2 separate regions of the Homo sapiens genome follow, and region 2 is linked to region 1. Evidence: fine-mapped expression QTL. A gene starts in region 1. The other region holds a variant in brackets. All regions are shown on one strand. Distances are between the middles of the regions. Region 1 holds the start of ZNF154 (zinc finger protein 154). Region 2 holds the start of ZNF552 (zinc finger protein 552).

Region 1 (5,371 bases):
TGTAATCCCAGCTACTCGGGAGGCTGAGGCAGGAGAATTGCTTGAAGCCGGGAGGCGGAGGTTGTGGTGAGCCAAGCTCGCGCCATTGCACTCTGGCCTGGGCAACAAGAGAGACACTCCATCTCAAAAAAAAAAAAAAAAAATAGAACAACCCTTCTAAATGTAATCCACAGCTCACTCACCTTAGTCCACACAATGACCACCACATTTTGGATGTCTCCATTCTGAAGCACTCCCCAGATTTCCAGACCTGGGTGTTCAGCCACCTACTTAATGCCTACTTAATGTCTCTGAAACATCTCAAACTCTTACATGACCAAATAAAGCTCCTGTTGTCTCCAGTGAATATTACTGTTAATACCAACTTCTCCATCTCAGTTGAAGAACCATGGGGTCATCGCTGAATCCTGTTTCACTCCCTCGCTGTCTACATCAGAAAATTTAGTTGCTCCCTTTAAAAATTTGCATCCAGAATGCAACACATCTCCTAATCAATGACTCTGGTCCATTACCCTGGACTGGCTGTAGCTTCCACTCTGATCTTCTTTCCTCTTCCCTCAACCCCACAGTCTGCTCTCCACGCTAACGGGATGGACCCTGTTAGGACTTTGGTAAGATCACCTCCCTCTTGTAACCCAAATCTCTCATTACCTCCAGAATAGGTACCCAACTTCTCAGGCAGCCACTGCAGTCCTGACTCCTTCCCCCTGCTCTTTGTTCCCAGCTAAAAGGAAACAGATCTATGGTTTCCTCAAAAATCTCAGCTTAGTTTTACTAAGCACTTGCGCCTCCTGATACCAGTGCCAGAGATAACCTTTCACAAGTTTCCACTGGCTGACAAAAATGGGAACACCTCAGTATAACCCCTGTAACCTCTGGCATGGACTTAAGAGCCCTGGGCTTGGAATTTCTCCAGGGCACCAGACCCAGGATTGGGGTAACAGCACTTAAGAATACTAGGAAACCACAATCCCAAGAACATGGGGGTAGAGGCTACTGAGGGACCGAACACTCTCCACTTCCCTATGTGAGTTCCATACGCCCTTCTACAACTGGGAGAACCAGGGAAAGAGGAATGCATCCCTGGTGAGGCTAGATGAGCTCAAGCCTCCCTGTAGCCCTGCCTGGCCCTGAACTCAGGCTGGCTGTTTTACTTTCTGGTCTCAGTGCTGTCACCTCTTGCCAACTGTAGGGCAATGAAAAAAAGATGTAGCCTCCCACTATCTCAATGTCCTCATCGCCCCATCGCTGCTCTTCCTGTGAACAGTCTTTGGAAAAGTTTTTAAACCCTAACATAGGGCGGGCACGGTGGCTCACGCCTGTAATCCCAGCACTTTGGGAGGCCGAGGCAGGAGGATCACTTGTCAGGAGTTCCAGACCAGTCTGGCCAAAATGGTGAAATCCCGTCTCTACTAAAAATACAAAAAATTAGCCGGACGTTGTAATCCCAGCTGCAGGCTTGTAATCCCAGCTGCTGGGGAGGCTGAGGCAGGAGAATCGCTTGAACCCGGGAGTCGGAGGTTGCAGTGACCCGAGATCGCGTCATTGCACTCCAGCCTGGGCGATAAGAGCGAAACTCCGTCTCAAAGAAAAAAAAACTAACATAAATGGCGTCCCTCCTTTGTTCAGAACTCTCCGTGGCTTCTAGCATCCTCACAATGACAGTACAACCCTAGGAGTAACTCCGCCTCATATTCTTCGTTCCCTGCAGAAAACAGCTTTCCGAATTCTCCTGGCTCAGTCGCGCCTCAACCTTTGCACGCGCCGGTTCCTCCGCCTGTCACGCTCTCCCACACCTCGTCACACGCAGTGTCAAAAAAAGGGCCCCACCCACGAACGCCTCAGTGTCCCCGACCCTGGGCAGCGGGGACTCGAGCAGGCGCCCCTCACTGATGGCTTTAGAACGTGGGTGGGGGAAGGTGTGTGAGGACGGGAAGACGCCGCACTCACCTGAGTTGGCGTCCTCAGAGTGGCCGCTGCCATCAGACTCTGCGGGTAGAGCTGGGCCGGGAGCGACGGGCGACATTGGTAGGGACCCGGGGACAGCGGTCCCTATCCCAGGCCTGACGTGGGTCCCCCAGGGCGGCGTCGCCAAGGCTTAGACGCTTTCGTGCAGGAGGGACGACGACTCCCCTCACGCCTTCGTGGCCCCAACTCGGCGCTCTGCTATCTCTGATCCGGTGAACACACCTCAGAGAAGCTAAAATGGCCGCCACGAAGAGGCCCCCCCAAAAGTCCCGTCCTTTCTTTTTGTGACTCTCAAGGAAAGTCGGTTTTCTGAGCTCTTACTGGCTTAGTAGCGTGGCGTTCAACGCAGAGCATTCTAGGTAATGTAGTTTTCATAGATCCCGAGGTGGGTGCCGGGGACCCTTTGCACCAACCTCTTGGAGTAAAAGCGAAGCTCCAGGGCGCTGGGCGATGAGAAATGGCTTATCCAAGTCCTAGGGCAGTGGAGGGACTTCGCCCTTTCTTAAATGGGTCGTAATCAGACAGCATATTAGAGGTGCCATCTGCAACTGATCACCCAAGTGTTTGGGGAATATTATTTCAAACTTCATAAAGTTCAGCAGGCTCCCAGAGGCTAAAATTATTATCAGACGCTCCCTAAGGCTGCCAATCCAAATATGTACATCATTCCATAGAGCCATTCAGACACGAAATATATCCACTAGTAGGGAAGCTAATAAACATTACCATATAAGTTTATTCCTTTTTTTTTTTTTTTAAGACAAAGTTTCCCTCTGTCCCCCAGGCTGGAGTGCAGCGGCGCCATCTGGGATCACTGCAACCTCCGCCTCCCGGGTTAATCGATTCTCGTGCCTCAACCTTCCAAGTAGCTGGGACTATAGGCGCGCGCCACCACGCCAGGCTAATTTTTTGTATTTTCAGTAGAGACAGGGTTTCACTATGGTGGTCCCAAATTCCTGGCCCCAGGTGATCTGCCCGCCTCGGCCTCTCAAAGTGCTGGGATTACAGGCGTAAGCCACCGTACCCAGCCTCTATCATATTACATTTCAAATGTATGCACTCCGAAGCATTGAAGTCAGTCTGTGCACTTTTGGTCAGGGACAGGTGAAAAACTACTTCAGATAGTGGCATGATAGTGCTTCTAGAAGATAGAAGAGAAATGTTAGATCACCTTGAAACAGTAGTACAAAGGTAGAATTCTGTCTGATTCCAACAGAAAACATCTTTTGCCTGCATAGTCAATTATTGTGTCCAATTACTGTGTCCAGTCAATAACTGTGTCCAATTCACTGAGCAACGCTTTTATCCATTTCATAATTCTTACTTGATATCTGAGATATATTCCTTCTAGAAGTCTAACATCAATCTCAAAAAACAATGAAAGAAATGCTACTTTGATAAGAGACAAAGGGGAGAGGTGGGACTTCTTAATCAGAAAGCCGGTGAAATGCACTTGAAGGAAGTGAGAAATGAGCCATGTGGGTATTTTTAGAATAAATTCCAGGCAGAAGAAGCAGGTTACTAGAGTGCCTGGATGGATGGAGACTTCACAGGGCATTTCAGCATTGGAGGGCCTAGGGCTCCAACCCAGCAGGCCTTCATCTGCTTTGCTGGCTGCAGAGACACTCAGGGTATATAGGTGAGAAATCTCTTCTTTTTTTTTTTTCTTTTTTTTTGAGATGGAGTTTCACTCTTATTGCCCAGGCTGGAGTGCAATGACGCAGTCTTGTTTCACTGCAACCTCTCCACCTCCTGGGTTCAAGCGATTATCTTGCCTCAGCCTCCCAAGTAGCTGGGACTACAGGCGCACGCCATGACACCCAGCTAATTTTTGTATTTTTAGAAGAGACGGGGTTTCACCATGTTGGCCAGGCTGGTCTCGAACCACTGACCTCAGGTGATCCACGCATCTCGGCTTCCCAAAGTGCTGGGATTACAGGCATGAGCCACCGAGCCTGGCCGAGAAATCTCTGCTGCTTTGTTATAAAGTTTTGGAGCCGCAAAATAAATAGCACTCGAATATAAAATTTTCTTTTTAATTCTCAGCAAGGTAATGTACTTTTTTTTTTTTTTTTTTTTTTGAGATGGAATCTTGCTCTGTCACCCAGGTTGGAGTGCAGTGGCGCGATCTCGGCTCACTGCAAGCTCCGCCTCCCAGGTTCACGCCATTCTCCTGCCTCAGCCTCCCGAGTAGCTGGGACTACAGTTGCCCACCACCATGCCTAGCTAATTTTTTGTATTTTTAGTAGAGACAGGGTTTCACCATCTTGGCCAGGCTAGTCTTGAACTCCTGACCTCATGATCCACCCACCTCGGCCTCTCGAGGTGCTGGAATTACAGGCGTGAGCCACTGCGTCCGGCCCCAACATTTATTTTAATGTTCAGATTCTCCCAGATGTTTGGACAGTGGGAACTCATTAAAGCTGTGCTCTCTGCTTTTTTATGTCAATATTATTGATAATTTCATTACTTTCTAATCCAAAAATATTTTCAGGCTCATGTTGTACCCTTGCTATCCCAGCCCCAGAATCAGCCTCTTTTTCAAGGAGCTCTGGTTTTCTTCAATAGATAACAATGCTTGTAAATATTAGTAAGCATTAGCTGTGCTCTTTTCTACTGGTAAATCATTGATTATTAGGTCCTCTTGGAGAGAAAGCAGATACATACACATGCACGCACACATTTTTTTTTTTTTTTTTGAGACAGAGTCTTGCTCTGTCGCCCAGGCTGGAGTGCAGTGGCACGATCTCGGCTCACTGCAAGCTCAGCCTCCGAGGTTCACGCCATTCTCCTGCCTCAGGCTCCTGAGTAGCTGGGACTACGGGCGCCTGCCACCACGCCCGGCTAATTTTTTGTATATTTTTAGTAGAGACAGAGTTTCACCGTGTTAGCCAGGATGGTCTCGATCTCCTGACCTCGTGATCCGCCCGCCTCGGCTTCCCAAAGTGCTGGGATTACAGGCGTGAGCCACCGTGCCCGGCCACTTGCACACATTTCTATACAAATTTATTTCTACATCTATATTTACATCTGCAAAGACTTGAAAAATTCAGATATTTGAAATGACTCATGGGACTGAAAGCACTCTCTCATAAGGCTTTTATTTAAATATAAAGCATACAGTACAGCTAGAGAAAGACAGAACAGGCATCAGGGCTCAGAAAGATCTGGACCCATGACCCTCAGGATTCTTATTCACAAGTGGACATGCTTCATCTCTGGACTGTGCCACTAATATATATGGGATGGAGCTTGATTTCAGAAGAATTAATAACAGAAATTTCCAATAGGGACTTTTATGTCCCTCTGGCTGCATGACCCAAGCCAACCTAGCCATTTATGCCAGGTAAAAGCCAGCTGTAAAGACACGAAAAAATTTCAGAGTTTAAGCAGCACATTGTAA
Region 2 (5,371 bases), 100 kb after region 1:
CAGACTGTTACTGTGTCGATGTAGAAAGAAGCAGACATAAGAGACTCCATTTTGTTCAGTACTAAGAAAAATTATTCTGCCTTGAGATGCTGTTAATCTGTAACCCTACTCCCAACCCTGTGCTCCAGAAACATGTGCTGTGTCAACTCAAGGTTAAATGGATTTTGGGCTATGCAGGACGTGCTTTGTTAAACAAGTGCTTCAAGGCAGCATGCTTGTTAAAAGTCATCACTACTCCCTACTCTCAAGGACCCAGGGACACAAAACACTGCCTAGGAAAGCCAGGTATTGCCCAAGGTTTCTCCCCATGTGATAGCCTGAGATATGGCCTCATGGGAAGGGAAAGACCTGACAGCCCGACGCCAGTAAAGGGGCTGTGCTGAGGATTAGTAAAAGAGGAAGGCCTCTTTGCAGTTGAGATAAGAGGAGGGCATCTGTCTCCCGCTCATCCCTGGGCAATGGAATGTCTGGGTGTTAAAACCCAATTGTATATTCCATATACTGAGATAGGAGAAAACCGCCTTAGGGCTGGAGGTGAGACATGCTGGAGGCAATACTGCTCTTTAAGGCATTGAGATGTTTATGTATATGCACATCAAAAGCACAGCACTTTTTTCTTTACCTTGTTTATGATGCAGAGACATTTGTTCACATGTTTTCCTGCTGAACCTCTCCCCACTATTACCCTATTGACCTGCCACATGGTAGAGATAATGATCAGTAAATACTGAAGGAACTCGGAGACTGGTGGCGGCAGGGGGAAGGCAGGGTTCCTCCGTATGCTGAGCGCCAGTCCCCTGGGCCCACTTTTCTTTTTTTTTTTTATTTTTTATTCTTTATTGAGACGGAGTCTCGCTCTGTTGCTCAGGCTGGAGTGCGGTGGCACAATCGCGGCTCACTGCAAGCTCCGCCTGCCGGGTTCACGCCATTCTCCTGCCTCAGCCTCTCCGAGTAGCTGGGACTACAGGCGCCCGCCACCACGCCTGGCTAATTTTTTTGTATTTTTAGTAGAGACAGGGTTTCACCGTGGTCTCAATCTCCTGACCTCGTGATCCGCCTGCCTCGGCCTCCCAAAGTTCTGGGATTACAAGCATGAGCCACCGCACCCAGCCCACTTTTCTTTCTCTATATTTTGGATCTGTGTCTCTTTCTTTTCTCAAGTCTCTCATTCCACCTGACGAGAAACACCCACAGGTGTGGAGAGGCAGGCCACCCTTCATTAGCCGGGCATGGTGGCACATGCCTGTAATCCCAGCTACTCAGGAGGCTGAGGGCAGAATTGCTTGGGCCTGGGAGACAGAGGTTGCGGTGAGCCAGATCGCACCATTGCGCTCCAGCCTGGACAACAAGAGCGAAACTCCATCTCAAAAAAAAAAAAAAAAAAAAAAACAATGGAGAAGGCCAGGTGCAGTGGATCATGCCTGTAATCCCAGCACTGTGGGAGGCAAAGGCAGGCGGATCATGAAGTCAGGAGTTTGAGACCAGCCTGGCCAATATGGTGAAACCCCATCTCTACTAAAAATACAAAACATAGCCAGGCGTGGTGGTGCACGCCTGTAGTCCCAGCTACTTGGGAGGCTGAGGCAGAAGAATTGCTTGAACCTGGGAGGTGGAGGTTGCAGTGAGCCAAGATCGCACCACTACACTCCAGCCTGGGCAACAAAGTGAGACTCTGTCTCAAAAAAAAAAAAAAAAAAAAAAATTAGCTGGGCATAATGGCATGCACCTGTATTCCCAGCTTCTCAGGAGGCTGAAGCAGGAGAAGTGCTTCAGCCCAGGAGGCAGAGGTTGCAGTGAGCAGAGATCAAGCTACTGCACTCCAGCCTGGGCAACAGAACAAGACCCTTTCTCAAAAAACAAACAAACAAAACCAAAAACAAGAATGAAGGAGAAAAGACGATACAGAAATCATGTGTGCTTACTTGTCTGGCCCCAAAAATACTACTGAAATAGAAGAGGTTTCTGTCATGATTTGAATAAAACTCTTGACATCATGCACCACTGTCCTAGGATGCTATTTTTCAGGGACTCAGAACCCATAATGCTGAGGCCAGATTCATTTGCATCTTCTGACCACAGAAGATGATCCCACCACCAAGATAACCAAGTACATGAGACATACATGATGTAAGAACAAAGGGAAAGACAGAACAAGGAAACAGCCAACACTGGCTTAGAACAACTCAGCACATGACAGCAGACAGGAAACAATATTACAAAAAGAATTTCTGTTTTTTGAGACGGAGTCTTGCTCTGTTGCTCAGGCTGGAGCGCAGTGGCACAATCTCAGCTCACTGCAACCCCTGCCTCCTGGGTTCAAGCTATCCTCCCACCTTAGCCTCCCAAGTAGCCAGGATTAAAAGCGTGTGCCACCACACCTGGCTAATTTTTATATTTTCAGTAGAGATGGGGTTTCACCATGTCGGCCAGGCTGTTCTCGAACTCCTGGCCTCAAGTAATCCACCTACCTTGGCCTCCCTGAGTGCAGAAATTATAGGCATGAGCCACTGCACCAGACCTATGAAGAGAATTTCTAAGGACGGTATTACAAGAACAGTCTATAGTCTATGTAGGCAGTGACAATGTCAATGAAGACAATTCCTGGCACAGGGAGGCATGAAGAAATAACAGGTAGAGGAATGAATTAGATCCCGAACCTGAAATCTGGATGAAATCACACAAACATCCACAGGACAAACAAGGTAGCCTGCATTAAGTTGCCTGTAAGACTTCTGACTCTGAATTCTTCCCTGGGAGCTCAATAGCAGGTGTTGGGGCTGCTCCAAGAATGGAGAGGGCAGTATGCATACCTCAGTCCTACCAACCAAGAACTGAAGTAGGAAGCTGTGTCCATGCTCCTGACATGAGAAAGTCTTGCCAATAGAAAAAGAGGGGGAAAGACAGAGACTAGCTCAGGTCACAGGGGTGAGTGTGGGCAACTTACCCAGGGAGGACATAAGTGCCAGGTTCTCCAGCGTCACATCACGGTACA[G/A]GCATCTCTGAGCCTCACTAAGGAGATTCCATTCCTCCTGGGTAAATTTCACAGCCACGTCTTCAAAAGTCACTGTGCCCTGTTATGATGTTGACAGATGAAACCACAAACCACCCCTATGCTGAGGTATCACAATCCATCTCTCCCACACATCTACTCTCGCACATCCTCCTCTCAAGGTCCTCAAACATAGGAGAAACTAGGCCCACTGGTCATGGGGTACAGCCACCAACAACAATAGTTAGTTGAACAAATAGGTATCTGTGCGGTGGCTGTGATATAAGAGTCCACCCCCTCCTGACAGGCACTTCCCCTAGTATGGCCGAGGTCATGGAAAGCCCAATGTGGCACCTTCAGCACAGCAGAGATACCCTCTCTGAACGCACCTCATTCTTTTTTTTTTTTTTTTTTTTTTTTTTTTGATACGGAGTCTCGCTCTGTCACCCAGGGTGGAGTGCAATGGCGCGATCTCGGCTCACGCAACCTCCGCCTCCCGGGTTCAAGCGAGTCTGCTGCCTCAGTTTCCCAAGTAGCTGGGATTACAGGCATGCGCCACCACGCCTGGCTAATTTTGTATTTTTAGTAGAGACAGGGTTTCTCCATGGTTGGTCAGGCTGGTCTCTACCTCCGGACCAACCCGCCTAGGCCTCCCAAAGTGCTGGGATTACAGGAGTGAGCCACTGCACCCGGCCCCACCCTCCACTTTCTTGTATGCGTTCCTTAAATGCTTCTACAGCCATAAAGGCCTGAGGGAAGAGGCTGACTTTACAGGACTGTGTCCCTGATAGGATCTGGTAAGCTCAGGCCTCCCTGAACGCTTTTGTGTCCACGGAGCCAGGTGACCTTGGACTATTGTCTAACCTGCGTGTCTCAGCACAAAGTGTCATCTCTACCACCTATATGATCTACAAGGATTCAATCTCAAAGGGCCCCAACGTCATCCCCTCTCTACTCTGTTATTTATTTGGCCTTTAGGAAACTTTAAAAGCCTGGACTTTGATCCAGTCCCTTCTTTCTTGGAAATTCTCCTATTTCTAGTGTCCTCGCAATGATTTCACAGCCCCCAGCCTCCTTGCTTTTCCAGGAGGAGTTCCGCCTCACAGGTTGTTCCCTACAGGCGCCTGTGGACCCCAGGTTCCATCCTCCCGGATCCGTCCATCTCCAGGCCATTGCCCGCGCCCCTCCCTGTACCTGTCGCTCTCCCCACCGCATCCCACGGGTGTCTGAAACAGGGATCCCTCCCGAGAGCGCCTCAGTGTCCCGACGCCGGGTCCGGGTTGCAGAGCCGTAAACAGGTGCCGCTCCCTCGCTGCTTTAGGACTTGTGTGACTAGGAGGTGACCGGAGAGCACGGAAGGCGCCACAATTACCTGAACGGGGAACCTTAGCGCGGCCGCCGCCATGGGACCACGTGGGGTAAGCTGGGTTGAGAGCAGCGGGCGCCGTTAAAGAGCTGCAGAGTCACGTCTGTGCAAAGAGAAGAACGACTCTCGACCTCCTGGATCCAGTCACCACCACGGTCCCAACACAGCGCTCCAAGGACTCCCTAACGCCAATGGAAATGGTCGCTACTAAAGGGCGCCGGGAGTCCCGCCTCTACCTTACTTGCGCACACGGAAACGCCTTCAATGTGAACTCTCACTGGCTCTGCCGTGCTGTCATTTGACGCAGAGCTTTCTGGGTAATGTAGTTTCCCAGGTTCCAAGGCCGTAAAGAGAGAGATTCCCAGGGGCGCTTCGGAAGGAAAAGCCCAGCTCCACCTCCGGGGCCCTCAGGGAAGCCTCCTGACCCGCACGGTGGCGCGCGCCTGTAATCCCAAATTTTGAGAGGCTGAGGTGTCAGGACTGCTTGAGCCCAGGTGGTCCAGGCTGCACTGAGCTATGACTGCACCACTGCACTCCAGCCTGGGCGACAGAACCTGTCTCAAAAGAAAAAGAAATGTTAATTAAGCGTTTGTGCTGTTAAGGGAGGAGACCACCTCTCATATTGTTTTATGCCCAATTTCTGCCTCCAAAGAAACAAGTAAAAACTAAAAGGCAGAAATGAAATCCACAGGCAGACAGCCAGGTGCCAACCCTGGGCCTGGTTAAAGATCGACCCCTGACCAAACCGGTTATGTTATCTATGGATTCCAGACATTGTATGGAAAAGCATTGTGAAAATCCCTGTCCTGTTCTGTTCCGTTCTGATTACCACTGCATGCAGCCCCCAGTCGTGTACCCCCTGCTTGCTCAATCGATCACAAACCTCTCATGTGGACCCCCTTAGAGTTGTAAGCCCTTAAAAGGGACAGGAATTCCTCACTTGGGGAGCTTGGTAGTTGGAGATGTGAGTCTTGCCAAAGCTCCAGGCTGAATACAGCCCTGCGGCTTGTCCTGCT

What was found.
Region 2: its variant is fine-mapped to the expression of ZNF154 in whole blood (INTERVAL, PIP above 0.99).

Annotation. Positions count from the first base shown.
Region 1 is chr19:57,706,989-57,712,359 of GRCh38, forward strand. It overlaps ZNF154 (zinc finger protein 154), which reads right to left and starts at 2,216. Exons shown (of 3, transcript NM_001085384.3): 1 at 1,951-2,216. The coding sequence starts at 1,983. RefSeq lists enhancers at 1,804-2,443, 2,187-2,316, 2,337-2,396.
Region 2 is chr19:57,810,350-57,815,720 of GRCh38, forward strand. It overlaps ZNF552 (zinc finger protein 552), which reads right to left and starts at 4,564. Exons shown (of 3, transcript NM_024762.3): 1 at 4,362-4,564; 2 at 2,945-3,071. The coding sequence starts at 4,394. RefSeq lists enhancers at 1,180-1,831, 4,839-4,888. The variant G/A (reference allele first, on the strand shown) is at 2,993.